Homo sapiens: one gene and its partners. The protein of the gene in region 4 purifies or fractionates together with the protein of the main gene of each other region. This does not show direct contact. Each region holds a gene or a part of one and is shown on either strand. Other genes may lie near its edges. The genes, in order: BPIFB1, GCA, MNDA, CYP3A43 and LCP1.

What was found.
Region 1: the proteins of CYP3A43 (region 4) and BPIFB1 purify together in Homo sapiens (affinity purification with mass spectrometry; one large-scale study listed by BioGRID and IntAct). This does not show direct contact.
Region 2: the proteins of CYP3A43 (region 4) and GCA purify together in Homo sapiens (affinity purification with mass spectrometry; one large-scale study listed by BioGRID and IntAct). This does not show direct contact.
Region 3: the proteins of CYP3A43 (region 4) and MNDA purify together in Homo sapiens (affinity purification with mass spectrometry; one large-scale study listed by BioGRID and IntAct). This does not show direct contact.
Region 5: the proteins of CYP3A43 (region 4) and LCP1 purify together in Homo sapiens (affinity purification with mass spectrometry; one large-scale study listed by BioGRID and IntAct). This does not show direct contact.

What each region holds. Positions count from the first base shown.
Region 1 is NC_000020.11:33,288,451-33,294,417, reverse strand, and holds part of BPIFB1 (BPI fold-containing family B member 1 precursor), read right to left. Parts: intron 5,678-5,967; coding exon 5,536-5,677; intron 4,534-5,535; coding exon 4,426-4,533; intron 3,462-4,425; coding exon 3,312-3,461; intron 2,512-3,311; coding exon 2,430-2,511; intron 1-2,429. UniProt on the Homo sapiens protein: May play a role in innate immunity in mouth, nose and lungs. Binds bacterial lipopolysaccharide (LPS) and modulates the cellular responses to LPS.
Region 2 is NC_000002.12:162,356,452-162,362,418, reverse strand, and holds part of GCA (grancalcin), read right to left. Parts: coding exon 5,938-5,967; intron 5,662-5,937; coding exon 5,514-5,661; intron 3,376-5,513; coding exon 3,262-3,375; intron 2,926-3,261; coding exon 2,867-2,925; intron 2,203-2,866; coding exon 2,176-2,202; 3' UTR 1-2,175. UniProt on the Homo sapiens protein: Calcium-binding protein that may play a role in the adhesion of neutrophils to fibronectin. May play a role in the formation of focal adhesions.
Region 3 is NC_000001.11:158,840,600-158,846,566, reverse strand, and holds part of MNDA (myeloid cell nuclear differentiation antigen), read right to left. Parts: intron 4,434-5,967; 5' UTR 4,414-4,433; coding exon 4,149-4,413; intron 3,289-4,148; coding exon 3,152-3,288; intron 2,613-3,151; coding exon 2,445-2,612; intron 981-2,444; coding exon 564-980; intron 1-563. UniProt on the Homo sapiens protein: May act as a transcriptional activator/repressor in the myeloid lineage. Plays a role in the granulocyte/monocyte cell-specific response to interferon. Stimulates the DNA binding of the transcriptional repressor protein YY1.
Region 4 is NC_000007.14:99,829,713-99,835,679, forward strand, and holds part of CYP3A43 (cytochrome P450 3A43), read left to right. Parts: intron 1-5,967. UniProt on the Homo sapiens protein: Exhibits low testosterone 6-beta-hydroxylase activity.
Region 5 is NC_000013.11:46,146,950-46,152,916, reverse strand, and holds part of LCP1 (plastin-2), read left to right. Parts: coding exon 1-137; intron 138-1,838; coding exon 1,839-1,981; intron 1,982-4,108; coding exon of another isoform or gene 4,109-4,300; exon of another isoform or gene 4,301-4,402; intron 4,403-4,469; coding exon 4,470-4,565; intron 4,566-5,813; coding exon 5,814-5,967.

The DNA of each region.
Region 1 (5,967 bases), on a different chromosome or scaffold from region 4:
CCATTGTCTTGAACTTTGAGATCACACAATTCATTATATTCATTGTTCATTATATTCATTATATCACACAATTCATTAATTCATTATATTGGTTCCCTCCCTTCTCATCTCTCTCTGTCTCTCCCCATTCTCTTCCAAAAAAGTACTGGAGAAAGGTAGCTTGAATTGGGCTGAATCAGTATTGCTTCTGAAATTAACCTTTTAAGATCTTATTTGAGCTTTATTTAGTTTTTGATTATTCACTTATTTTTCCCTGGCCTCTTTAATATGTAGATATTTCGACTATTAAAATAATGGATCTTCCTTTGACTATACATGCTACTCTTAAGCTTTACTAGTGCAGAAGCAGAAGTTGAAAATCATAACTCCAGCTTATTAGAGAAACAAACGTAATAGTATATTGTACAGTTGATGTATATTTCACAAAATGGAGATTAAATGTTTTACTGTATTTTTCTTGAAGGTAAGGACATGGAAGCCAACTTGGAGAAAAATAAAAATCTCCATTGTTTTAAAGTACTCTTAATAAGAATCACATTGTTTATATAAAGCAGTGTTATTTATTTATTTAGTTTTTGAGACAGAGTCTTGCCGTCATGCCTAGGCTGGAGTGCAGTGGCACAACTGTGACTCACTGCAGCCTCAACATCCTAGACTCAAGCGATCCTTCTGCCTCAGCCACCTGAGTAGCTGGGACCATAGGGGCACACCATCATGCCCAGCTATTCTAATTTTTTATTTTTCTGTAGAGATGGGTTTCTCTGTGTTTTCCAGGCAAGTCGCAAATCCTGGGCTCAAGTGATCCTCCCGCCTCGACCTGCCAAAGTGCTGAGATTACAGGTGTGAGCCACTGGCCCTGGCCTAAAATACTGTTTTAAATATTGCTACTGTCATTTTAAAGTACTCTTAATAAAATCACATTATTTAAAAAAGGATTTGCTGGAATGTTTTCGTAAATTATTAAACCCAATGTACCTATTTAATAATTACAAGTATTGTATAATGACTTTGAAACATAGATCTGATTTAAAGGCTGACACCAAGAGCAGCCTCTTAAAAATACTAGTGCATGTGGATGGAGGTGGGAAGGCAATCTGCAAAAGATCAAAGCGCTCCTGGGTGAAAGTAAAAGGATTATGGATTTTTTTTCCCCAAATTTTTTCATTTATTACATCATCTTTTCAAAGAAAAAAGTCGCCAGGCACAGTGGCTCATGCCTATAATCCCAGCACTTTGGGAGGCTGAGGCAGGCGGATCACCTGAGGTCAGGGGTTTGAGACCAGCCTGGCCAACATGGCGAAAACCTTGTCTCTACTAAAAATATAAAAACTAGCCATGCCTGGTGGTGCTCATCTGTCATCCCAGCCACTTGGGAGGCTGAGGCATGAGAATTGCTTGAACCCGGGAGGCGGAGGTTGCAGTGAGCTGAGATTGCGCCACTGCACTCCCGCCTAGGCGACAGAGCAAGACTCTGTCTCAAAACAAACAAACAAAAACAAAAATCAAAGAAAAAAGTCTTATTCCAAGAAATATTAGCTATTTGACAAGGTGTTTTGACCCTAGATCGGGTGGCCCATTGTTACGAACACATCTTGGAATTTACAGTGGAAATCACTGGTTAATGTGGATGAATTCAATTTACAAAGTTTTAGTATACCTGTGACAAATAGGGGCAACTAAAATGAGAGTCACCTGTGTTTACTGACGCAGAAAAAAAATCCAACAGGACCTGGTGGGTGGTGCAGCCCTGAATACCACAGCCAGATTGATGTGTGACAGTGCCGTGCTAGAGCCAGCTTGTACTAGCTTTTGAGAACCAATTGTTAAATTTCCACAAATTTCTGAGCTGGGTGCTAAGCCCAGACATTGTTACAAATTAGACATATAAACTTACAATTAAATAAATTATATTAAAACAAATTTAATAAAAATTTAAAACGCATTGCTTCCTAATTAGTTTGCTGTATTTTACTACTATCTATTACTCCTGAGATCATGTTTATGTATCTGTTTAGTGGAAATATACAATCGTGTGCTATTGTATATCTTTTCCCAACTCTGTTCAGTGACATCACACTGGTCGCCTAAAATTGGCCCTGAAGGGAGTATTTCCACCAGGGAAATCCGCAAAAGCTACAAATCAGGTTTGCCTCCCTTCAACAACCCCTCCAGAGACAATTGCTAAAAATTTATCAGCACGTCACTGTTCACGGGCTCCTGGCTGACTTTTAGCAGTCCCATGACCTTGCCTGTCTGCCTGGGTCAATGGCCCACCCCACTCCATGACTCTTTGCTATCCAGCCCCAGATAATTCTTTCAGCAAAACCCACCCAAGGAGACTCCAGTCACTTAGCACCAACTTGCAGTTCCACCCAAGCCCCACAGGGGGCGCAATGCCCACAGGCCAGAGAGGCCCTGATTCCACTCACCTGGTTTTTCACTAGATTGGGCAGGGATGGCACTAGGAGGTTCATGACCTGCTTAGCTAAGGCGTTCACCAGGAAGGAGAGCCTTTCAGGGAAGAGAGCACGAGAGACATTAGGAAGGGTCAGAGATGATCACCCCTTCCTCTATTTTACAGAGGGGGAGGCTGAGTCTAAGGGAGGAAGGAACCTGCCCAAGGTCACAGGACGTGTTAGAGACGGGGCTGGGAGTAGCCCCTGAGCCAGGTGTAGGCAGTGGCAAAGAGTTATCAGAAAGCAGCGGCTGGGTGTTGTCATTGGAACTTTATGCTGGGCATTGGGATGATGGGAGCTGGCATTTCTCCCTGTCCTCCTGCTAAGAAGGGAAGGGGGGGCGCCATGTTTTTTGGCACCACCATGCGCGTGCACTGTTCTGAGTGCTTGATGGCTGTTGTCTGATCAGTTTTCTCACCACTGCCTGGAAGGTGTCATTACCTGCACTTTACGGGTGAGGAAAGTGAGACACAGGGTGGCCACTTGGCCATCATCACCCGGAGAGCAAATGAAGAGAATGTGTTGGCCTGACCCAAAGCCTATGTTTTTGCCCCTGGCTCCACCTACACCTGCCCTGGTGTTTGGAGGAGTTTCTAGGCCTCCCCCTTCAAAGATTTGCCCCACCTCCCGGTGTCATGCCTGAAACCCACCATGGTTGCTTCTGACCTTGATGTCCTGAACTTCCCTTGGCATCACAGATTCCCTGGAAGGAGCCCCAGATCAGGAATCAGGAGGGGATAAGTCCCTTTCTTTCTCTAGGCCTCAGCGTTCTCCATTTGTAAAATGGGGGAAGTCCACTGCCTGGCGTTCCTTCCAGGCAGGATGGGAGCCCGGCTGGTGGCCAGCGACACTCACTTATGCAGCAGTTGGATGCGCAGGCTCCCATGGCTGGTGGCACAGTCACTGAGGACCAGGCGGGTGGGGCCACTTGCACTGGTGTCCATGCGGATGGTGGCTTGGGCCTCAGTCGTCATGTGGAACTCCACGATGGTCTTGACCAGGGGCCTAGCGGGTGGAGGCACCTGACCATGTGAGCACCAGGCAAGCTCGGGCTGGAGCAACCCTGCCGTCCGTCTCTGTCTTCCAGCCCTCACCTCCTTCCTCAGTCTCCTTTGCTGGTTTCTCCTCATCTTCACCCAACTTCACCCCAGCATGTCCCAGGCTCAGTTTTCAGACTCCTCTTTGGTTGAAACGTCTTTCGTCTGCTGACAGCTTCCAAACTTACCCCCAGCCCCCTACTCCGATGTCTCACGGGCTTCTCAAGTTTAGCGCATGCAACACTGGACTGGCTCTTCCCCAGACCTGCTCCTCTCATGGCCTTGCCTGTCTTGGTTACTGACCACTCCATCCTGCCAGTGGTGCAGGCAGAACTCTTGGAGTCATCGTTGACTTCTCTCTCTTTCCCCCTGAATACACATGCATATTCAGTTCCCCGGGATATCCTGGTGTCCCCACCTACCTCCAAAACATATCCAGAATCCAATCAACTTCTCAGCACCTCCCTGCCCCAAACCCTGGTCTAAGCCATCATTATCTCCTCCTGAATTGTTGCAGTAGCTTTGGGATAGCCTTCCTGTCTCCACTCTTACCCCCAGAAAGTCTTTTTTCCCCACAGCAGCCAGGAGTCTTTAAAAATGTGAAAGCACAGCATATCCCTCCTCTGCTCAGAATCCTCCCTGGCTCCCGTCCTACTCAGCAAAAGCCAAGTCCTTATCTTCTCCCAAGAGGCCTTGTATGATCTGGCCTCGGCTGCCTGCTGGCCTCATCTCCTACCATGCCCCCTCTCTCTTTCCCCTGTCTTTGCCATTCTTTGAGCAAGGCAAGTACACTGCTGCCACAGGGCCTCTGCACTTGCTCTTCTCTCTGCTCGGAACTCTCTTTTCCAGACACCTGCATGGTGGGGGCGGGGGAGGGGGAACGAGCAGATGAGCCTGTCAAGCCTACTGTACTTGATGGAGGGGTCACTCACGTGTTGAATCCAGCCACCATGTCCAGGGGGATCTTGACTAGCAGCTCCTGGTCATTGGCCGAGGGCTTCACCTGCAGCTGGAGGATGTTAGCTGTGATGACCTTCAGCCTGGATGGGGTTTAGGAGAGATCAGAATCATGCCTCCGGCTCATTATTCCCAAATCCACTCCCTCTCTATCTTTTCCATCTCCCTGGGGTGCCTAGGCAGCAGCGGGACCCTGGCCCTGCCCACCGACTCCTCTCCAGATGGTCTTGCCTCCATCCCTCCCCTCCACTCCTGCTCACAATGCTATTATGGTGCCTTCTCTTCTAGGTGGTGACTCCCAGCTCCTTGAGCTGACTCATAAGACCCTCTGTGACCTGACCCTGCTGATCCCTTACTCCTTGCCTTGAGGTTTGAGCTCTAGCCATTCTGACCGACTGTCACTTCTCCATGCCTTTGCCCAGCCTGATTCTTCTACCTGGATGCCATTTGCTTCTTGTCTCCTGGTGAGCATTGAGTCATCGGCTCCACTGTCACCTCCAGTGAGAAGCATCACCTCATCCCTTCCCTGTGCCACCCCAGACAACCTTGCTCTGGGTTGTTTTTTTTTTTTTGTTTTTTTTTTTTTGAGACAGAATCTCACTCTTGTCACCCAGGCTGGAGTGCAATGGCACCATCTCAGCTCACTGCAACTTCCACTTCCCAGGTTCAAGCGATTCTCCTGCCTCAGCCTCCTGAGTAGCTGGGATTACAGGCTTCTGCCACCATGCCTGGCTAATTTTTATATTTTTAGTAGAGATGGGGTTTTGCCATGTTGGCCAGGCTGGTCTCGAACTCCTAACCTCAGGTGATCCACCCACCTTGGCCTCCCAAAGTGCTGGGATTACAGGCTTGAGCCACCGTCCCTGGCCTTGCTCTGGGGTTGTTGTATTAGGGTTCCTGTGTCACTGTCTTATGGTTCTTGTTAACTATTCTGGGAGCTTCTTGACGGAGGGGCTTTGTTTGATCCACTCTTTGTGATCTGACACAAGTCGATGCTTGCAGACTGGTTGACTGAGCATGCAGAGCGTGTCCCGGGCAAAGGTGTGGGAAGGGGCTAGCTCCTGGTGTGGTCCTGCTCCACTCACCAGATGATGTGCTTCAGGACGGTGTTCACCAGGCTGCCCAGCACAGGGATGCCTCCGGCTGGCTTTTCCCGCATGGCACTGAGCAGCGGCAGCTGCTGCAGGATGCTGGTGGCGTTGTGGTCCTTCAGCTCCTGTGTCAGCTCTGGAGGCAGACCCCAGGGATTAGGGCCCAGGAGGAGGGGCAAGAAGGAAGGCTTGGTGGGAGCTCCAGGCTGGGGAGGGGTATCACTCGAGGCTCCCTGAGGTAAGGCGAGGGTGTAGCCATCTCTACTGTGGTGGAGGTCAGGACCAGCCTGCCAGTCCCCACTGTGTAGATGTAGCCTTGAGGACAGTAGCCCAGATGGGTCGTTTTCACATCAGGAGCGAGGCTGGGACCATTCACACCCCTGAGCATTGCCAGCCTCTGTGGGGAGTGTCGGCCACTGCACTCAG
Region 2 (5,967 bases), on a different chromosome or scaffold from region 4:
TCGAAAAAGTGAACTGTATTTCAGTATAAAAATTCTGGTAAAATATTCTCTAGGCCTAATGTTTTTGTTAACATAAGTTTGTCTGTTTAATGTAAAGTGCAGAAGAGTTGCCTGGCAATTAAGTTGGATCGGCATAGAATGTTAGGTTTTGCTAGAGAAAGGGGTTCTGTGGTCAAAAAGTTTGGAAAAAACTGGGTCAAATAAAATTAAACATGACTGATTTTATTAACCTTGGGGTTTCAGATGCTAATATACCTTGTCAAGCTTTAGAAAGTGAGAGTTTCTAAATATGTTTGGCCATGGAAGCTCCTTCATAGACCTTCTATGACCAAAAGTCATAAGAACATTTTTAAATGAAAATTGTGTTAAAGAGTTCTAATATAGAGTGTCACCTGGCAGAAGCTTACATGAATAATACCATTTGTCATTTTAAAAGTTTTACCTCAACTGTGAGCCTCCAAGTAAGAGAGATAATCATAATCGACCGCAGAATAGTTCAGTAACGACCATCTGTATAACCTGGATGTTAAGATTACAGGTTGCTGAGCGACATTATCACCATTCGATGTGAACGACACTTAGTGTTTTCACATTTGCTTTTTCCTACAACACTTCTAATTAGAATTCTGTTTCTTTAATTTCCCAGCTCAGTTAATGTCCTCTCACATTATCAAATATATGTTCATAAAAAAGCCAGAGAACAAAATTATGTGTATTACCTATTCACACATTTTTATAAAACTGACCAAGTGAATTTGACAGCAAATTATATAAAATTATCAGTGTCAAGTGACTATGCGTTACTTCCTTTCCAGGATTTTTTTAAGTGAAGGCTGATTTAAAATTCTGTAAGTTTATAAAAGATTTTGTTCAAGATATTGCCATCTATCCTCCATCCATTAAGAAACATGGGATTTTATAAAATCTATAAATTAATTTGGTCAGCAGTCATAAAATTATGTCACTCACTGTTAGGTTAGAAAATACACATTTAAAGCATAAGAAAAATAAGTGGTTTATTAAATCTTCACTAAGACAGACATGAGGTGTTTGCCAAGAAAGAAATTACATTAATTATAACATCTTATACCAGGGATATTAAACACTAAAGATCTGGTGATTCTACGTCGCATTTTCGGCAGTTTTAGTACCACGCAGAAAAGTTGCTGTGGTGCCTACTATGCTCAAAACACCACATCACATAGATGCACTCAAAATACTTACTGGGTTTTTAATGGCAAAGCCACCACTAATGTTAATGTTGTCAAATAAGTCAAATGTAAAATTTCTGAACAATTAGAGTGGTTAATTACTTGTTTATTTTTAAGTTTATAAAGAGTTGACATTACATTTAAACAACAATTTAATTAGGACAATTTTGAATGTTGACATATCATCAAAAACATATGCCATTTCTAAAAAGTCTAGATTCAGAGCAGGATGCCATTTTAGGTGAACTATGTCTTCACTAATGAAATAGGACGCAGAGAGAAATACTATGTTTATTAAGAACTTTTTGCTTAGAGAAGACAATAAAACATATTTAAGAAAAATATATAATACAAAAAATAAAAAAGGAAAAAACAATGCCTTCTGTAGTCTTATTTCACTACAGATTGAACTAGGGAGATAATTTTCTTCTTCACAGACAAAGATCTTTAAGTTTCTTTTCTCTGATTATTTGATCAAGGAACAAACTATATTACAAACATGGCACAAAATCCAGGCTTTCATTTCTAGCCAACCCTCAAACACCACCAACTACAAAGAAAATTTAAAAGTCTAATTTGTAACCTTCAGATAAGTATAAATTAGTTTTTTCTAGGCTTTCATTATTTGGCTTCTTATACAATCTATCTTGTAAAGTACATTCCTCTAAATTTACATTATCTAAAATTAAGGCTAAGCATTATTTAAATCAATTAATCATACAATATTTTATGACAATATGCACATATTTATAAAATAACTTTTCCAAAAGCAGTAATACCTCAAATTAAAAAAGAAATCTTTTATTGCTTTGAACTATCTGCTAAAATAAAAACACACAGAAAGGGAAGAGGTTTAACAGGTAGGAAGAACATAGAAAACCCTTAAAAGTTTTAAAGTAGTCCAGTTCACTTCTTCCAAACAAAAGAATTCACAGTGTCTCTTCAGGTTTAAAATTCTAAGCATTCAAATTGCCATAGTGCCCTGCAAAAACTAATACATAAGTGAAATTATTATCTATTAAGAATAAAATGGTTTTTAATTATTTTTGACTAATTATATTCCATAAGAGCATTTTCTTAAGAGAGAAAAGTTTGTTTCCAAGGCTTATAATTCAAGCCAATAAATATCAGTAATGTTGACCCCATAACTTCCATCAGTAAATATAAGAAAAACAAAACAAAAACCCTGAAACATTAAAGCACAGGTAAATATAACTGTCTTATACCTTGAATTTTAAAAAACCCTGAATATCAGGTTAATAGTAACCATTTGAAATGAGAAATGAACAGCTTCATAATCCGTCACGGATTAAAATTTTTCCCTCCCTGAGAAAAAATATCACTACAGTAAACTACCCTTTTTAAAAATAATGGTGGTTTTGGCCCTTAAAAGTGATTTGAAAGATCATTTTTTTTTTAATTCAAAAAACCTGTCATAAAAATTGAAAAGCATATTTACAATTTAACATGAAGTCAAATTGTTTGGCACCTATACCAATATTAATCTTATATTTGTGTTACACTGAAAAATATGGAAAAGTATGTGGCATACCAAATATATTATTTCCAGTACTGGTACTTGGGATCACTTAAATTTTTTTACTAACTGAGAACTATCTAGAATGCAGTATAAATATCAAAAGCAGGATACTCACATCGTCATATATGAAATTCGCAGACCCTTGTTGCAAGTGGTCTCTTTTCCTAAAGAAATCTTTAAACAAAGAAATTACTTTTTTATTGTAATTTAAAATACATAGTTTCAAATATTTAGTGCACCCAGGTACACAAAAAGAATAATTTCATATTCAATTAAATATTAAGTGATTGAATAGCCCTGGCAACAGAGATATGAGAAAAACTTCCAAAAATAACATAACGTTTTTATCATTTATATTCCTTAATATTTGAAGCCTTTAAACTAATTAGATTTAACAGTGAATAAAGGGAGAAAACACATATTATTATAAACTTGCTGGAGGAAATGAGACACATTATTCAAGAAAAATAGCTACATAACACTGTGCACTTAGTTTTAAATAGTCAATACCTGTCAATGCTCGAAGCTTCACACAGCAAGCAACATAATCATCAAAGAAAATTCTGCCATTCTTGCTATAACGTTTAACAATAGTAGTTAATGTTTGAGGACTCAACCTATAACCTAAAAAAGAGATAAATTAAAACTTCTAAATGTAAATAACATAAGAACACTGCAAGATTGCTTTCTCATTAAGTCATAAAATAACTTTCAAAATTCATTCCACAAAAATATAATTAGAAACAAAACACATGAATATTGAAATTCATCAGACAAAGGCTTCACTGTTAATCCTGTTAATCGGTATATAAATATCACAATTCTAACTTTGTAATAAAGTCAAAGCTAAGGAAAAGAAAATAATTCTCTTCTTATGAATTTATCATATATTGTTATTTTGAAATAATGTCTAATTTCATGGGTTTTAATGCTTCAATATTTCAAGTATGTAACTTTGTATAGTTCTTAAAGAATATAAATGCAAAGATTACTAATGATCTTTGTTATTCAAATGATATTTCCCACTGAACATATTACTTGCAAGTATCTTTTATAACTAAGAGAAATTTGAGGATCAACATGATTACTCTACAGGGGAAAAAAACAGAAAAACATTCTTTTTTGTCCTGGAATTCTTAGTGTTTCTTCATACACTGTAATAATAATAACAGCTTTCTCGCTATTTCACTGATTTCCTTGGTTCTTTGTTCAGTAGTCCTGTGATGTCCAAAATCTTTGATTTTTACTTATATCAATGAGAAAGAAGTTTTTGATCATTCACTCCCAGTATGTTTAAATTAATTTTAAATTCTATACATGTATTATTGTTTGATTACTCCTATTTTAAAAAATACATAAAATCTAAAATTTAAAACGAATACAACTGAATAAAAACATAAATTAATATATTCTACTTGCTGTACCCTTATAGATGGTCCTATGCATTTAATGAGATGTATACATTTTACTAAGAAGAATGGTAGCCCAGTATTATTGCCCATACATTACTGGATTTGTAGACTTGAACAAATGACACTAATCAATTCAAAGGTGAAAACAACCAAAATAAATGTAACAGGAGAAAATTATACATGCAGCTATAATAGAATGTAATGTGGGAAAGGTATAAATTGAAAGAAGCAGTAAAACATGCAAACTAATGTAATTATATGCAAATATATTTTGAACTTCATATTAGAGAGTTATGAGCTAAATGTGGTACTGATAAAATTCCTAGATTTTCCCATAGTATTCTCAGAAAAATAATTTGAATATTTTAAAATATACATGAAGATCTTAAATTTGGATAATCCAGAATACCCTTTTTACATTCCACTGCCTAACGGGAACTCTGGAGGTTTTCTTTTCTGCCAAAGATTACATTAATTTCCCAACATTAGGCTGAATTAAGGTCCAGGTTTAATCCATTAGGTATTAAGGATCTATAATTGAACTACATATGTTTATATGGGCTGGACTGTCCCTACTACTAAATTAAAATGTCTATTTATAAAACAAAACCAAACAAATCACTAATTTGACTTATTTAAATTGCAATTTGAGATAAGCCCACTTCCATTGGGTTCAGATTTTAACTTCCAAAAAATTAATTTTCATACAAATAGATTTTGTTTAGAAGAGTGTAAATCACAAGCATAAGAACAATTCATAAAGCTACTTAAAACTGCATTAAGTTTAAGCAAATTAAACACCATTGTATGTTATCCATTTTAAAAGTACACTAGGAACATCAGCTTATCAGAGGTATAAGAATAAAGTTATATACTTCTAAATTACTCTAAAATGCAACCTTTCCATCCTGATGTATTTTGGCACCTGCTATGTGTTCTGCACTATCTAAGAAAAAAAAGACAAAAACATGGTTTCTACCACTGAAAACCTATTTTGTACAGACTTTTGACTGACTGAGGCAAGCTTTGGCTCCCAATTAGATATCCTGCCAAGTTATAAAAGAATACAATCTAACTGGTAAGTACTAACAAAGAAATAAATTTAAACACAACAGAAGAAATTCAGAATGTATGCATGTATGGAAGATCATCTTTTGAAAAAAATCATAATTAAAATGGTTTTGTTGAGGTCTTTGGTCAGAATTTACCTACAACCTTGAAAACAAACAAAGGAACTTGCTGGCAAAAAAATACATCCCTTTATTAGTTAGTAAATTGAAGCAATTAAGTTCATCTAATCAAAGAACAAAGATTAGCTTTATAGATTCTAAAGAATGTTAATGTTCTTACCCATAAGACCAATGGCTTGACGCAACTCATGATGTTCTACTGTGCCACTTCCATCTTGATCAACAGTCATGAAGTTTTCCTTCCAGGCATTAAGAGCTGCCCATAGCTCTTTGAATGCATTAAATCCCATTTTTCCTGTGTGATCTCTCTGATAGTTTTATTAACAAAAATAAATTCTGATACCTGAGTTTATCTGACTCTAAATCATTGACTAAAACATGAGTATGCTTCTGTAGACTTAGCCAAACTCATTATATGAACAGACTTCTGCATAAAAACTAGAAAGCCTAGAATTTAAACAGGATCTTACAAAGTATTTTTAAATTCACTAGTTTACTACAGGCACTGAAATCTAACCACTGGCTTGATAGTCAGAAAGCAATTACTCTTTATTCTAGTATTTTCTATTTCTATTCAAGGATACATCCAACATGGCAATCATAATTCTGCAGGT
Region 3 (5,967 bases), on a different chromosome or scaffold from region 4:
TCAGTTGTTCAATGCTATCTTCATAAATAAATGAATAAATAAATAAGATAGAAGGGCAACTGATCTAAGCACAAATGTTTAGATTGTATGGATAGCTGTTGAATGTATTTGCATTTATGAGCATACCAGCCAATCCACTTATTACTCCAAAATTATGTCACAACCAGAATTCAACCTTGGTAGCACAATTCATTACTTAAAATAAATTTATCAAAACTCACAGTAAAATTATCAGTGCTCATTGGGATGGAGCTGAAAGAGATGATGTTATTAGCTTGCTCCCGTTGATTTGGACCCTGTATTGTCCTAGTTCATTGTGGCTGACAACAGATCATTACTGCCAATATTTCTTACTAACTTTTTTTCAAAGTCCCTACATTTATTTTGGCGTAAGAAAGTTAATAGGTCACTTAGTCCTATTTCCTATTTTGTGGGACAACTTCATCACTATCTCTAGTCAATATAAATTCTTGTGTTCCAATATTCAGACAGTAAGTCTGGCAAATTAAGACATTTATTTCCAGGTAATGGTAGAGAAAATTAAAACAAAATTAAGGGTTTACCTTTTGTAACATAAACAACCCATACACCATTGTTCCAGATGCTTGCTTGTAAAGTTGACTGATCTTGGGAGTTTTATTTGCTATTTCGATAATTCTGTTTGGGACCTCAAAATTTTGATTAAAGTCAGACACAGATGATGCTTCCTTTATTTCCATTACTCCTTTACATTCAGAGTAATCAGATATGGTAATGACCTTCTTCCTTACAAATTTCTCTTTCAAGTTGATGTCGAAGACTTTCACATGGAAATATTGAGTCTTACTGGCCACTGTAGCATGAAACATTGTGCTTTTCCCATTTTCTGGGGACTCGTATTTAAATGGCGCTGTTGCTTTCAGTACCACCACTGTCACTGGGTCGTTTTGGGGAACATTTCTTCTTGCATCCACCTGCCGTTGGGCCTGGGTTTCCTGATTCTGTGTTGGGCAGACACAAGAAAATAAACTTAAAACTTTGAGCAGGAGGCCGGGCGCGGTGGCTCACGCCTGTAATCCTAGCACTTTGGGAAGCCGAGGCGGGTGGATCACGAGGTCAGAAGATCGAGACCATCCTGGCTAACATGGTGAAACCCCCATCTCTACTAAAAATACAAAAAAAACTAGCCGGGCGTTGTAGCGGGCGTCTGTAGTCCCAGCTACTCGGGAGGCTGAGGCAGCAGAATGGCATGAACCTGGGAGGCGGAGCTTGCAGTGAGACCAGATCGCACCACTGCACTCCAGCCTGGGCGATAGAGCGAGACTCCGTCTCAAAAACAAACAAACAAACAAACAAACAAACAAACAACAACAAAAACTTTGAGCAGGAATACAAAGTCACTCTGCACGAGTGACTCTGCAGAGCTTTCGACCCAACAACTTTCACAGATATTTGGAGCTGGGGGCTAGGCTAGACAGGGATTACTGAACAGAAAGGAAAGGCACATGAGCTGGTAAAGTTTAGCTACTGAAAGCCTAAGGTAACAGACAACAGGCTTGGAAATTAAATCACCCTCATTGACTCAGAATAATCTTCCTGAAGCAAAGCATGATCTTCTGCATGAACAATCTAGAGTAGCAGATGATGAAAACATTGTTGTGAAGAAACTTTAAAGAAAGATTAGAATATAATAACAAATCCAAATATCTCCTCTACCTACTGAAATTATCAAAGACAATCAACAAAGTGAAAACAACTTGGACAGCATTAAAAATGAAGAACCATGCCCACCAGAAGCCTCAAACATCATTAGATGTTCTAATGATCAAACATTCATTAGAAATTCTAATGATCACTAGTGTACTCTGCCATTTTGAGGGCCAAACTCGTTTGTTTCTTCCCAAGAAACAGTGCTTTTACAAGTGGAAAGACTTGGCCTGGCTAGCATGTAAGTAGTCTCAGGTAGAGGATTTCTGGTTAGAGCTATGTCCTCGACTGTGTATACACAGCATTTCACAGTGGCTAAAATGCTAACAACAATGGAAAAAGGACAAGTTTGTTTATCTCGTATGTCCTCTCTCCACAGTGTCCTGGCCTATTTGAGTTGCAGCAGAATACTTTTCTGAAGAGAACGTTGGCAGATCTGTAATAGGAAGTGTGGGGAGCAAAGATGAGCCATGGGCTTGTATGTACTGGTACTAGGAGCCAGGCTACTTACCTGCACAGACCAGAAATGCTTAGTGGTCTGTCCTGGTGTTTTACACACAGTGATTACCTGTAGGTAATTGGACTTTACTTGCATGTGGCTTCTCACCAATGTAAACAAGTTATCATAATATGGAAAACAGTTTTCCCACAGCAAATCAGTAATATGAAGAGTTATGCATGAGAGTAACAATAGTAACAGTGGAATGCACTGTGACTGGGTTAAAAAAAAATGGAGAAGAGGACCAGGAAGAGTGTACCGGAGTAAACGAAGTGTTGGATGGAGTTGATGATGAGGTCTGGGGTAGTGGGGGATGATCCACAGCTGCAGATGTGCTGGCTCCTGAGGGACCTGGGGGCTTACTCTGCTCTTGGGACACCTTATTCCTTTTGGCTTCAGTCTTTTCTTTGTTTGGAGTTTTTCTTTTCTGAAAGTAGTTTAATTTTCCTGTTAATGGAGTTTAGTATCAAAAGAAGCAGAGCAAGTTTTCATTTTTTCATTACAACATAGTAAGTTCTATTTATGTTGGATGGGATGTCCTTGGAAACCCCAGGGAATTACAATCTGTCACTTGAAGATATGGACAATAGATAATATTGGGCATAGATTGTTGCACTAAAAAGGAGATGGATGATTTCAACAGATGCATTACTGTTATCACCACTGTGGTGTGATGAGAAGAGCACTGGACTTGGAATGAGAAAATCTAGATTTGTGTAAGGATGGGCAAGATGTATATCCAATATGATTATTACCCCATTTTTATAATGGAGATGATAATATATTTATGTCACAGAAATTTTTTATTACATTTTTACGATACCTAACTCTTTACTCATCACAAAGAAGATCCATAATTACTAATTTGGTAAATCTAAGCTGTGTTGAGATATTAGTAAAGAGCCACGTGCCATAGCAGAGTATCTTCTGTGAGGCTTCAGTCCTGCTCCTCTTTCTCAAGCTTACCTGAGCTACAGGAATCCTCCCTCTTGCTTCCGATGTCAGTTTGTTTCTTGCGGTGGGTGCAGGTGCCGCAAGACCCACTTCTTCCTGGTTTATTTTTTTCACTGGAGCTTTTTCTTGTGTTTTAATTTTCTTAGCAACTGACAAAAGAAAAGAAAAAGGGCACAATAGGCCTAGAGTGGAATAGCTTATCTAAGACAGCTGAGGCAGTTTCAATATTACCTGCTGTCAGCTCCTGCATGAGAGTTCGGATTTGCCTGTTACCTCTACTGCATTAACCCAGCCTGGCTCCTAGGAGGCCAACAGCAGCATGGTAGGCATAGGCACTGTCTCATTCTCCTCAGTGCTTTACTCACTCCTCCCCTTTGCAGTGAGAACATGCTTCCTTTCCTGTGAACTCCATGTGCCTCAATCAACCCTTTCTCAGTCTTGTTCTCCTACCATTTCTTTTAAATATCTAAGGCTTTCATGATGCTGACAGGCTGGTCATGTTCTGTGCAATATCTGTTCAAATGACAGAAATATGACCTGAAAGGAAATATGATCTGAATTGTAATGTGGCAAAGTGCTAATATTGGCTTTTGAATTAAAAAAAGAACAGTGATTTATTAAGTGGAAAAATTCTACACGTCTCTTAATAGAACTATTGCTGCATAAATTGGTTAAATATAAATATTTCAAATAAAACACATTTTTTAAAGTAGCTTTTTTTTTCATTTTCTGACATTTTTGATTTACTGAAACACTCACCGTCTCATAAATCCCTGTCTTTGGTTTTTTATCCTTACCTCAAATACATTCTTCTAAATATATCAATCTCTTTCATATGAAACAGAATGTTCTAAATTGCCAACTGGTCAGTCTCTGAGGTGCCAACATCCCCATGACTGCTGAGTTATAAATTGGAAAAGGGATGTACCAGCTATGACCAAGGTGGGGTTCTACTGAAGACTGGGGAGACTCAAGGCAGAGTAGCTATGTGCAAGGTTTTCTCTATTACCTTTTGACTTCTCTTTTCGAAGATTGTTAACAAGGTTTTTAAGTGATGGCATATCTTTGGCAAGTTCTATTAGTTTGTCTAGACAGGCAACGCCTTGGAACTTTTTTTCCATCAAATCTGTAATCTTAATTCTGTTGTATTCCTCTTGCATTTTTGTAGTTAGTCCTAAATCATAGGCCAGTAAGGACTTAATTGATGTAAAATGATAATCATCCATGAGCTCAAATCCTTTCAGCAAAAGAATTTTCTTGTATTCATTCACCATTTCTGATGTTATAGCTTGGCCTATAAAGTAAAAATGACACACAACATTACACATTTATGCAGACAATTTTAAAAAATGAGATATGCTTTTGTGAGTGAGTGTCCCAGGCCAAAATGTTGTCCTTGGATGCGTATAAGAAAAAGGGACTAAGTTACCAGATATGTCACTGTGAACAATGGATCAAGACTTGCTTTATTAGGAGGTTCAGTGAAGTTCTTCCCTTTTAATGTTGATAAGTTGGGACAGAGGTGTATGTGGTGAAATGATGTTTGGAAACAGGTAATTGTTGCAGTATTTATAGTATGGGTTTTGTGGTGTCAAAGTCCCTGGTTCCTCTTCTGATATTTTATTGGGGCCTGAGCCTATCCCTCAATGCCTACCTCTTGGTTCCTGATTCTTCCCTGATTCTTCCCTGATTCTTCCTGGTCATCCACTATGACCAAAGTGGCCTAAGTATAAATGGGCTGCAGCCACTCACCTTATGTGAATAACCTTCTGCCACAGCACTACAGTTCTGAGTTGTGGAATGGACTCTAGTCCTTCTTGGCTCTCCCTAATCAGCTCTCGTTAGCACTTTTTCTCCCTGGGGCTTAGAACTTGTTCTCTGTGTCCTATGCATCTATAAAATTGTCATTTTGCCATCCTCCTATCTGCTCTCTAGTGTGGAATTGCAGCATTTATTTTTTGCACATTTGTTTTTTACAGTCAATTATTTACCTCCAACTAGTCTTACTTTTACTAAAAGGTTTCTGTCAGACAACCAAGTAGGTTTCTTTATGGATAAAGACATGACTCTATTTTTCCTGAAATCCTTCAATGAGTTTTGATTTTTATTAGTATAGATTTCTACTCAGCATGACTTGAAAGGCCTTGCATAAACTGTATCTTTCTTTTTGTGTGTGTCTGTTACTTTTGAATTTCTTATACCTTATGCTCTAGAAATACACAATATGTCTTTCTTTTTCAGGTCTTCTTACTGCTAATTCCCTTCCTGCTATCTGGGAAAGCATTCCCAGTTTTCTTCCTCTGAATACTTCCTTAGAGTTTTTAATGCTTAATTGAGGCTTTATCTTCTGCGAGCTGTTGTGGTCCCACTCTCACTTATGTGTGCCTCTTTAACCCCTTGTGTACTACCTAAGGGCATTCAGTTCCTAACGTATATTCCAATTTTCTGTTTAAATTTATAGGTATTCCTTTAGGTTGGTGACCATGTGTTTGTGCAACTTTTATATAATTAGAGTGTCCAAATTCTTAGGGCTGTAAATTGTTCTCTTTTGGGAGAACATGAGTGTTCCTGTGTTTAAACCTATCAGATAAAGAGAAATTTCACACATGGGCACATATAGTAAAGCCAAAGAATATTAAAAGCAAAATGATAAAATCTTCCAGAAATACTGAGTAGAACACCTACAAAGATTAAATAATCTGATTGAACAGTCTGCAGCAGGTTAAGAAAGTAATTTTTACATAGTACTGATCCATAATTATATGTCTGCAATTTTAAAACCTAAGAAGATACTGAAGGATGAAAAGATTTGTGCGGTTTGGGGGCTT
Region 4 (5,967 bases):
TTTGGTAGAATGACCTCTTATTAAGTACCTGTTTAACTGCACCATATACAGACCTATCTTTCATGACAGCAGACCTGCAACATCACCTCCTGAAATGAGGCACAGCTGTTTAACTGGATTGACATTGCTAGGAATGTGAGACTGGTTTATACTGGTTTAATGTGATTCCTTGCGACTCAGCTACCAATTCAATTGTCCTCTCCACAAGCATCAACTCAGCTTTAGTATGTACATTTTCTAGGGAAGTTTATGACAGGGGAAAGTTGGGGCTCCAAAAATGAAACCCCAAAATATGGCACTTAAGCATGTTGAGGACTTTGAACCAAAGGAAATTGAAAGGTCTCAGAAAGTCTTCAGAACCAAGCTAACTCTTATGTTCTCCTGTCTCCCAACCCTGCTATTTCTCCCAAAATATAGGAAGGGGCTTTCTCTGAAGTTCTCATACCTAAAGGAAGATCCTCCTAAAAAAAAGCAATGGTCTTGAGCCCCCTCCCTATAATCTCATGAAAAAGAATCTTAGCAGGGCCAGGCATGGTGGCTCATACCTGTAATTCCAGCACTTTGGAAAGCCGAGGTGGGTGGATCACGTGAGGTCAGAAGTTCAAGACCAGCCTGGTCAACATGATGAAACCCTGTCTCTACTAAATATACAAAAATTAGCTGGGTGTGGTGGCAGGTGCCTGCAATCCCAGCTACTCGGGAGGCTGAGGCAGGAGAATCGCCTGAACCCTGGAGGCAGAGGTTGCAGTGAGCCAAGATTGCGCCATTGCACTCTAGCCTGAACAACAAGAGCAAAACTTAGTCTAAAAGAAAAAAAAAAGAAAAAAATAATATTAGCTCACAGAAAGGGAGACTAAGGTTGATAATACTTGTTCTTTGGAGCACTGATGCCTGACAGACATTATAATAAGATGACTTTTGTTTATCATGCTTTTTCTTCCCTCACTCTCTCATGTCTTGTGTCACCCACTCCCCATCAGAAGATACTACATTTTTATAGCTCAGAATGCTATTTAAGCTTCAATCATCAGGCCATTCTTTGAGTATCATATCTTTCAAGGCTCCCATGCATATTCATGAGATAAATTTATAAGGATTATCTCCTATTAATTGATCTACTGTTAGTTCATTTCTCAGACTCAAATATCAAACCTCCATAGAGGAATGTTCTCTTGACCCTACAGATGTTACACAGATCCGTTGAAGAAGTAAATAAACATTATCCACCTCCTCTTCATTCAACTTCCAATTTCTGTTACTAAGAGTGTTTACTGACATCATTCAATCCTGGGGATGCTTTCTGATTGACTATGAGTTTTGATCTACCTAGACTAACAACCAGAATTTAGCATGGGCAGATAATGGATTATAAACAACTGGAAACCCAAGAGGTTATTTTCGATGTGTGAGTAGGAAAAGATCCCCAAAGAGGGAACCAAGCTAACAGCTGGGCCTGGCCAGGGTGCCACTGTGGGGTCCTTCAAACACATTCTCTTCATGCAATTTTTCAGCTTTATCACATTTTATAAGATTTATTTATTTGTACTGAATATTTAGGATCTAAGAAAAGCTAACCTATAAAGAAGAGAAATCAAGTTTCTAATTCAACTGTCTGGAATATTTTATGGTTACTTATGCTATGTAGCACAGTGAAACTTTTCTATCAACAGAAATGTTCCTGAATTTTGGAAGACCTCTCTTTCAGCTGAAAGCACATAAGGGGCATTTAAAACTATTTATGCATACCATAATTTTCAGCCACACTTTCCTAACTTACCCTTATAGGGCCTACTTTGTGGCACCAGCAGTTGCATGGTTACATCGGCGGGATGCAGCCTCTCTTTTTCCTCCAGTCTTCCATCCCTCAGTAACACCAGAGTGGGAAGTTCTGCAAGGATCCAGAACCTGCAATTGATGGAGTTCACACATAACCCATCAAAGATGAGTTGCAGGCAGGCCTGCCATAAGGAGCACCAGACTTAATGGGTTTTCCTGCAGGATAGTTGATGTACAGAAGCAGTAAACTGACTCTGTGTGACTGATCATTTTGAGAAAAAAAAAAAGTGAGCATGACTGGCATTGTGCTTATCAAGTAAGGATCACCAGTTGGAGGGCCAGATTGCACAAGAGGAGGAATGGCCTTGAAATTTATTCTTTAGTCATTGGTTCCTCTGCATAGTGCCATTCAGAGAACATATAGGTCAATCACATTTACTGTAGTTTATATCAATCAAATCATCTGACCACAGAGATTTGGGTGTAGCTGGAAGGTGCTCACATTTCTATGAAGCCAGTGGAAGCCTTGAATATGGTTGTCATTCCATAGAAATAAGAACACTATGATTCTTCCAGAGCTCCTCTGTGCAGGAATGTTTAAGGATGGCCAGATCCTAAAACAAGGTCAGTGTTTAGAGGGAAGGAAAAGCATAAACACCTCTGAGAAAACAGGAAAGAAGGTGTCAGCAAAGGGCCTCAGTAACCCTCTGTAATTCAATGGATGTAGTGATACACAAACTCATTATTAGTTCAAAAGATAAAAAAAAAAAACCTCACCTAGTGATATGGTTTGGCTCTGTGTCCCCAGCCAAATCTCATCTTGAATTGTTATCCCTATGTGTCAAGGAAGGGACCTGGTGGGAGGAATTGGATCATAGGGGTGTTTTCACCCATGCTGTTCTCATGATAGTGAATGAATTCTCACAAGATCTGATGGTTTTAAAAGTGTGGCACCTCGACCAAACACCGCATGTTCTCACTCATAGGTGGGAATTGAACAATGAGAACACATGGACACAGGAAGGGGAACATCACACACCGGGGACTGTTGTGGGGTGGGGGGAGGGGGGAGGGATAGCATTAGGAGATATACCTAATGCTAAATGATGAGTTAATGGGTGCAGCACACCAACATGGCACATATATACATATGTAACAAACCTGCACGTTGTGCACATGTACCCTAAAACTTAAAGTATAATAATAATAGAAAAAAAAACAAAACAACAAAACAAGAAAAAAAAAGTGTGACACCTCTTCTCTCTCTCTCTGTCTTTCTCTCTCTCCTGCCTCCATGTAATACATGCTTTGCTTCCCCTTCACCTTCCACCATGATTTTAAGTTTCCTGAGGCCTCCCCAGCCATGGAGAACTGTGAGTCAATTAAGCCTCTTTTCTTTATAAATTACCCAGTCTCAGGTAGTTCTTTATAGCAGTGTGAAAATGGACTAATACACCTAGAAAGAGAATTTCCAAATCAGGAAAGAATCAATTAACTAAATAGACATACGTGAATGAAATGCCCTGGAAGAATTCCAGTCTGAACCTCTTAAGGGCACTCAAATTTGGGAACATTTATTAAGCATTCACTCTAGCACTGGGATCATGCAGACTTCAGCTGCTTTTAGTTAATCATTGTGACTTTTTGGGGTCTCACAGAGGAGGCAGCAAAAAAGATGAGGATTGAAATGTAGTGGGATTTTAAGGAATCAGAGAGACTGATGGGGTTCAGGAGGATATTTATTAATTATTTAGGTGCACCAGCCCAGTCGGATTAACATCCAGAGGACTGAGCTCTGAACAAAGAGTTTAGTTACCTTTTAAGCATTTCGTGGGAGGGGGGAGATCTGTGGAGAGGGAAGCATACTAGAGAAGTAAGAAACAAACACAGTTATTCAATTGAGAAATGCATTACATCATTTCTTACATTTCAAGGAAAAACACGTTTTGTGACTTGAGTTTATCTGTCTAGTGACCTTGCAGCTGCACAGCTAGGGAAACAGGGTCTTTGCAATGCCTGGGAAGGGAGGAGAGATAAGGCTCACTAGCCTCAGAAAAACAGGCAGTTAGTTTTTAAAAGACTCCAGCTCTTTCTCTTTTTCAGGGGAAGTTGGGTTTTTTTCATATACAACTCAGTTTCTGCTTACGCACTCTTTAATTTCTTTTAATTCCTGTTCCATTGTCCCCTTTGGTGCTTTTTACAACAGAAGTGTTAATAGAAAGCACCACTATTTGCCACCTCCTCGCGGAGCTGAGCTTTTTCTTCTACCGGCAGCAGCTGATATCTGGTTAATGCCACAACTGTGCGGTAGCGTGTCAGGCTACTATTGCCTCTATAGTTGACTGAATACTCCTAATAAACAGGGGTAAAAGGCAAGGGAGGATGAGGCAAATGCCAAAAATAAGCAAGAACTCACTAATGAGGGTTTTGAATTCTCCAAAGGCTGACAACCATCCTCCAAATAAGGAATCCAGGGACCACCTGGACCAAGTCTGAACTAGAACATGTGCCATCTTGCACATTCTAGCTGTGATTTTCATGACAGCTAGGCCATTATCATCGATTTCTAAGCAACAATTGGTTAAATTAAATTTTTCACATACTCTTCCTTCTGAGGCTAAGAGGAAATCTAAAGCCAGCCTATTTTGATATATAGCATTTCTCATTTGTGTTGCTTGTATTGCCAATAAATCTAGTGCCCTTGATGTTTTATTGGTTATAATTTCAAGGACTGCCCGCAACCTTATGATGCAGTTGAGCATATAGATGGGGGTACGGTACCCCCATGACCTTTCTTGCACCTAGGTAGCTGGCCTATAGTATTTAATGATTCTTTCAGGAGGCCATTTGTTATCTTTCCAGTCTCCTATGTCCACATCTTTTTTGATATTTGTGTTTATTTTTGTGATTATGCCTCTTCTAGTTCTTTTATTTTCATCATAAACTGGATATCCTAAGAGTTCCCCTGGCTTTAGAGGAATTAGAAAGAAGGATGGCTTGATTGTTTCTAACACACATTCCCCTGTCCATTTAGTCAGCAGCTGATATGCCTGTGCTCCACAGGTCCAATATAGGCCAGAGGGTGCTTTCTAAGCATTTGGAGCCTCTAGCCGATGCCAAGTGCGGCTTAGAATAGACAGTGGAGGGAAAGGGTTTTGATCTTGTAAGTAGGAGTTGTTCTGGGCATTTCTTCAATAGAGTTTTGTTTTTAGTCTCATCATAATACTGTTGCCCTAGGCAGATTGTTTCTCCTACTGCCCCTGTGAAAGCCTTTCCTCATTGGGCAATACAGTACTTTCCAATTATGGAGGTTTTTAACAACCAAACACTGGTTGAGGCTGTTGGTTCACTGGTAGGGTTAAGCGAAGTGAAGTTATTTTGTGGCATTAATTCCTTTGCCTCCCATGGCCACTGGTCCCCCATATTAGTTCCTCCACATACATAGCATGAGGAAATTCCTAAGCTGCCAGCTATGTTTTCAGCTAGTTGAGCAAATAAGTTTTTGGTTGATGGGGGAAGCTCGGGCACCGGCTGATCAAAATGCTTATAGAATGACTTATGAACCCAGAATTGTGGGGTTGGACACATCTGAGTTCTTCTAGTCTTTTTGACAATCAGTAGTGGAATTCTAAGGCCTGCTCCTTGCCTATCAACTCTTAATAGTGCTGTCTGTCCTGTAGACCAAAAAGGTAGCTCTGGCTTTAAGATAGTAAAATTTAAAGGATTGCATGTCTTTGTCTTACGATCTGGTTTGGTTGACATACTACTTAGCAGAACAGTCTTCCCTGAATATAGGTGTTGGTGTTGTGTCAGTGTAGACCACTTAATGTTACAGTCTGGGCATCCGATTTGTCATTCTCTGTACAGATGTTTAGGACTGCTGCTGATAAGCCTCTCGTGTCAAACCATTGCAGACTGCTTCTGGTTTTTTAGGATTATGAACATATGCGGTATGGTAGGCATCAAAATACAAGGAAATAGGCCTGTTATAGAGGGGAAGGGCTTCTTTGGTTTGAGCTATAAGCTCTCCTTCTTTTTCTCCCTCTGATTTAACATGTACCTCAAGCCAGAATTCATAGGGTGAGAGCTTAGGGTCATAACATACATATAGCTGATTATTTCCTGGGTCACAGACTGAATAGGTGGTCTGGTTGTATGTGCAGGTTTCTAACTTGGTTCCTGCACATTCAT
Region 5 (5,967 bases), on a different chromosome or scaffold from region 4:
CTCAGCCATCGGGTGCCATGTGGTCAACATAGGGGCTGAGGACCTGAAGGAGGGGAAGCCTTATCTGGTCCTGGGACTTCTGTGGCAAGTCATCAAGATTGGGTTGTTTGCTGACATTGAACTCAGCAGAAATGAAGGTAAGAGCAAGTCCCAAAGGTCATTTATGACACAGCTTTCTAATAACTTACGCGTTGGGGACTGTAGGAGGAAGATGTCAGAAATTCTCAAGTTTTGAAAACTACACAGTTATATTGATTCCATGGTATTCATGTCACAGATTCTATACACACAGACCAGACGTTTTTTAATGATAGAGCAAAAGCTTTTTAAGACCATAGACTAACAATAATGTTTGTTTGGAGCATAGGGCTCAGTCTTGAATGTTTGGCACTCTAACCTCAAGAGGTTTTTTCAGAGCTCACTTTGCCTTTAGATATTTGTAACAAATAAGAGGACTTTTAACTTGCACTTTGCGAAGTAAGCAACTCACATTCATATACTATAGTGAAGGTACCAGATTAGGAGGAACTTGGTCTATTTCTTATCAAAACTATAGAGGAAGGTATAGGTCAAAGGGTTCAAGGTTGCAATTATATGGGATGAATAAGTGGAGATCTAAACAGCACGAGGGCTATAGTTAATAATATTGTGCTGTATACTGGTAATTTGCCAAGAAAGTAGATTTCAGGCACTCTTCCTACAAAAAAGAAAGAAAGAAAGAGATAGAGAGAGAAATGAAGAAAGAAAGAAAGAAAAAGAAAGGTAACGATATGAGATGTGAGTATGTTAATTTGCTTGACCAACAGTAACCACCTTACTGTGTATGTGTCTACCAAGATAAGTATACCAAAACATCACGTTACACACCTTAAATCTATGCAGGCTAGAATAAACATTTTTAAAGACCGTAGAAAATTCCATTTAGGGTTTCAGAGTTCTCAACTAAATATGTAGCTGTCAATCTTATTGCGTCTTCTCTCACCATCTTATCTGTATGTAAACAGTGACAGCCCCCTGGCTTAGACAGAGGTAGCCCACCTTGATAAGTATCATGCAAAACACGATGTTATCTTTTAGTTATCAGGTACAAATCCTACCAATATGAAATCTGTAGTCAAGTTCTAATCTTTAGTTATACATACTTTTTTATTTATATGTCCAAATCACAATAACCAATGAAAAATCCTGAAATATTATTTAAAAACCAATGTATTAAACATAATATAAAGAAGGCGGGGGAGAGGAAATAGGGATCTTAGAACCTGTGAGAAAGAATATTGATCTTCAAATAATGACCTCAGCTAAATTTAAACCTTCTAGCTGAGCAAAAAAATACTTACTCATCTGGGAAAACGTAGAGGAGAGTTGATTACATTGTTGAGTTGCTATAATTAGGCAGGTAAGCACTTGAAATATAAAACACCTATGGGAATAGACAAGAGAACATTGTTATTATTACAAAATTGATCTCTTAAAAGCAAAAATGTTGTCATATTGTGAAATGTGGTTTGACAGACCCAGCAAAACATCCGAGCCAGTAGCCTTGGTTATTTTTATGGCTCTGCCCAAATGTTCTTAAACATAGCGTTGAGATTCACTGTGCTTTGTTTTCTCCATCTGGAAAATGGAGATAATAAATAAGCTCACAATGGCTTACGCCTCTTTTTAGGGAATAATAATAAAATATTTAATCCATGGGAAAGGCTACAAGAACCTTTACCCCAAAGAGGTAACGTTGTTATCTTTAGCTTTTTAGCAGAGCTTAATGAAAGTTATAACCAACCCCCCTCCCCCAACATCGCTGCATTTATTTTTCTGTGGTTTTTGTGCTTCTTCAGCTCTGATTGCTCTTTTGAGAGAAGGTGAGAGCCTGGAGGATTTGATGAAACTCTCCCCTGAAGAGCTCTTGCTGAGGTGGGCTAATTACCACCTGGAAAATGCAGGCTGCAACAAAATTGGCAACTTCAGTACTGACATCAAGGTAGGAGGAGCGTTGTTTGAACATGACTCTCTGCAGGAGTGAAGGGGAATTTGGGCAATAATAAAGAAAAGATAAAGATTTGGGGCTTCCTCTCTTCAGAAGTTCCAGGGTAGTCTGGTGCTGTTTTGGAGGTGCTCACTGTCCTTGAGAGCCCATCTGCTGCTCTAGTCCTGGGCCATACACAGACCTGCCCAGAGTCCTAGTGCAGTGTCTCGATTGGAGTTTCCATATCAGGAAGTAGAGGGACAAAGGTGAGCTAGAGGAAGAGCAAGAGAACAGTCTGCTGTCCAAGTAAAGGGAATATATGTAGGTCTGTAATGTCTCTGGTTTCATAAATGGGAGCAGCAGATGGGAATTCCCTGTAAAAAATTAAATGAAGATGACTCTTCTAGTTATACTAATAACAGCAAACATGGTGTCTGCAACATGCCAGGCACTGTTCTAACTGATTTATATGTGTATTCTCTTATTGAATCCTTACAACAACCCCATGAGGTAAGGGTTATTATCCTCTCATTTTACAGATAAAGAGACAAAGAGGTCCATAGGGGAAAGGCTGAGGCAGGAATACACTGTGGTTTTCAAGTATATGAAAAGTTCCCTGTCAAGGTGAAAGAAAACAGCTATTGGCAATGATGACAGATGGATGAAGATAGAAAGTGGTTAAGGAGCAGAAAGGAATGGAAAGCGGTCCCTAGAAGGAAAGAGTAGGAGATGCTGGGATGCAACACCAGGAAAATACTTCAGTCTCCACTTTCTCAAACATTAAATAACTTTTCCCCAAAGAGAAAGAGTCAGAGGAAAGTTCACATGACTCAACAGGAGTACACCTAGGCTTGTAATTCTTTGAGTAACAGTTTCCCACTGCTATATGACGTGCATTCAGTGGCATTTAGAACTCAGCGTGTGTCAGGCACTGTGCCAGTCAGAGTCAAGCTTCTAGATGGAAAGCCCCCATTTTTTAGGATCTAAGCTAAATCCATCTTTCTAACTATGCATCTTTCATGGGCTATTAACATTCTTCTAGCACCACCAACCGACCTGGGTTTTAACAGGAGCTGGCTGTCATGCTCTCCCTTTGTGCTCAACAGTTAAGCTCTGCAATTGCAAAACTTTTCAGACAAAATTAGGCTGTCAGATCTCAGCTGTAAATTTACCTAATTTCCTGTCATTAAATGGCTGTGTTCTCTAGAACCACCATTTTGTGCTTTGGGAAGTGTCTGTATGAGATAGGAGCTGGCCAGATGAGCACTTACTTATACAGTGTTGTGCCTGTTCTCTGGCAGCCGCTGCATGGCAACTGACTCCGTGCTGTCATGTGTATGTCTGAGTAGCCAGCCAGCAACCTTGGGAGATGTCTTTAAATCGTGTAAATTGGCAAAGGCGAGGAGAACACCCAGGCTAGAGTGAGTGAGAAGGTTCATGAGAGTCAGGTGAAATGAGGTTACTCTTAGCCAAACTAAAAAGATGTAACCCAGGGCAGGCAGATGGTATTGGTGCCTGACACCTGCATGTGACTTTCACTGACTTCAAAATAGCTACAGTGAAAAGTCAGAGAAGGGAGGGTAGATAGAAGGGAGATGAAGATCATTTTCCCCAGGTGCAACATCAATGATTCACACTCTCTGGTTCTCCTCTTTCTAATGCCAAAAGTGGTGAGCATACCTCTCCTCTGCCCAGGCCTTACCTACCCTAACCAGTTGTAGAAACAAAATAATAGCTGATTTTTCGATCTTTATGAGAAATTGAGATGCTATTAAATGATTTAAATAAACTACCTGAAAATCTGTATGCTTTCATTGACTAAGAATAAATTTATATTTTAAGACTATAATTCTGAGAATTCTTTTTGTCAATAAGCATATTTTCAGAATCTAAGAAAACTTGAGAATTCAATACCTGTATCTAATCTGCTATAACTAAATTGAACCATTTTTCTAGCTTCTAGATAAATATGAAATGCACTTTTCTTAATATTTCTCCTTTTACGTAAAGATTGCTTGTTAATGCTTCAATCTTCTGTCTTTGACATCTTTTTCTCTTGCTGATTGTCCATTTAAATGTATTTTAAACTCGCTTTAAACTTGTGCTTCCTTTTTCTGTCACTTTTTTTTAATTAAACCTTAGCTGACTGACTTCTACAGCAATATAAAGGTATATATATATTTTCCTGTATACAATTTAATTCATGTAAATAAGTTGTTTTTCTCCCCTAAAGACAACAGAATAATATCCACTTCTTTAGGGTGCCTTTTGTGTATATCTTGTCTATTTTATTGTTACGCTCCTTTTAAAAAGAAAAGCAAATGTGATATGTAAAGAGACAAATAGAACATTCAAATTAGTGAATGTTTCTAGCTTTGTTAAGTTACATTCTGGAATGATAGCTGAATATGAAATAAAATGTTTGCTTTTGGGAAATCATTGTTATGCTAAGTATGTAATTAGCTGTGCTATTTTGAAATTGGAATTTCTTAATTTCTCACAGGACTCAAAAGCTTATTACCACCTGCTTGAGCAGGTGGCTCCAAAAGGAGATGAAGAAGGTGTTCCTGCTGTTGTTATTGACATGTCAGGACTGCGGGTAAGGCCAGGTCCCAGTTGTGTTTGGAGAATATGATGCTATTTTCATGTTGGCAGTTCCATTACCTTGTGTGGCCCTGATTCTGGAGTTCCATGACTGGGCATTTCTGCCTAAAGCCCTGTTAAAACGGTAAAACTGTGAGCAGTTTGGGATAATAATTGATGAAAACTGAATCTGGAAATACAACATTAAAGAAAGAAACCAATAGTAATTAAACACCATCCAGCATGCTAGGCAATTCTATATATGTTCATCATTTAGTAGACTCTATAACCCCACATGGGTCTGAATGTTATAATAAAACTTCTGTTTTGCCGCCACTTTAATACTGATCTTGAGAAGTCTCTTTGCCCGTTTCTGTGCCTCATTTAATATCACTGGAGTTAAATCCAATGAGTTCATGTTGAAGTCAACTGATTCCTAATGAGAAGTAGAGTAAAAGTAAATGACAAGTAAAGCTCATGAAATGCATAATGTGTAGCGTTATCTAGTAAAGGGTCATATTAAGAAATCATCCTAATTTAAAGTTTTGTTTTCTGAAAATTGGTGGTTTCATGTACTTTAAGGACAGTGGGCCATATTTCAGCAAAATTTTAGGGTTAAGAGTCACTTACAAATGGCTAGAGATTCTCTAGAATTATTTGAGCACATTGAGTGGTTCAAAATCTGAAGTCTGCAAAAATAAAATTGATATTATATATTTATCAATAATAATACATAGGTTAACTGATAAAATTTATTTTATTTGGGTTGCAAGTATACCAACTCAATGTGGAGACAGTGGTTATGCTAATCATATGTTCTTACTGGCAAGTGTAAATATCTTTTGTGAACTGGTTATGGGAATATAAATTAATAAATAAAATTTTTGATAGACAATCTCATGTCATCTGTGCACACAAATAATAAAAAGGAATCTTAATGGTTGGAAATAATTAAGATAAACTCAAATGATCAGTTTTCAGAATCTACTGCATCTCTTTTGAAACAGAGCAACCAACCACTCATCTGAAATAGTTTGATAAAGGAGATGAGAGATCCTTGTTACTTAACCTCTGAGATTCCTTTTACTTGTGACTTTCTGATTTTGGTGCAGGTGCATATAGGCAATAATGTGCTGTTATTAAGTGTCTGCCTGAGATAAACACTAATGATTTCAGTGAGATTCCCATTTCTTTTCACATTATGCAATCTGCTTTGTGCATGGAGAGCCTTGACCCAGCCCTGAGACATCCTTTTGCATTGCAGGAGAAGGATGACATCCAGAGGGCAGAATGCATGCTGCAGCAGGCGGAGAGGCTGGGCTGCCGGCAGTTTGTCACAGCCACAGATGTTGTCCGAGGGAACCCCAAGTTGAACTTGGCTTTTATTGCCAACCTCTTTAACAGATACCCTGCCCTGC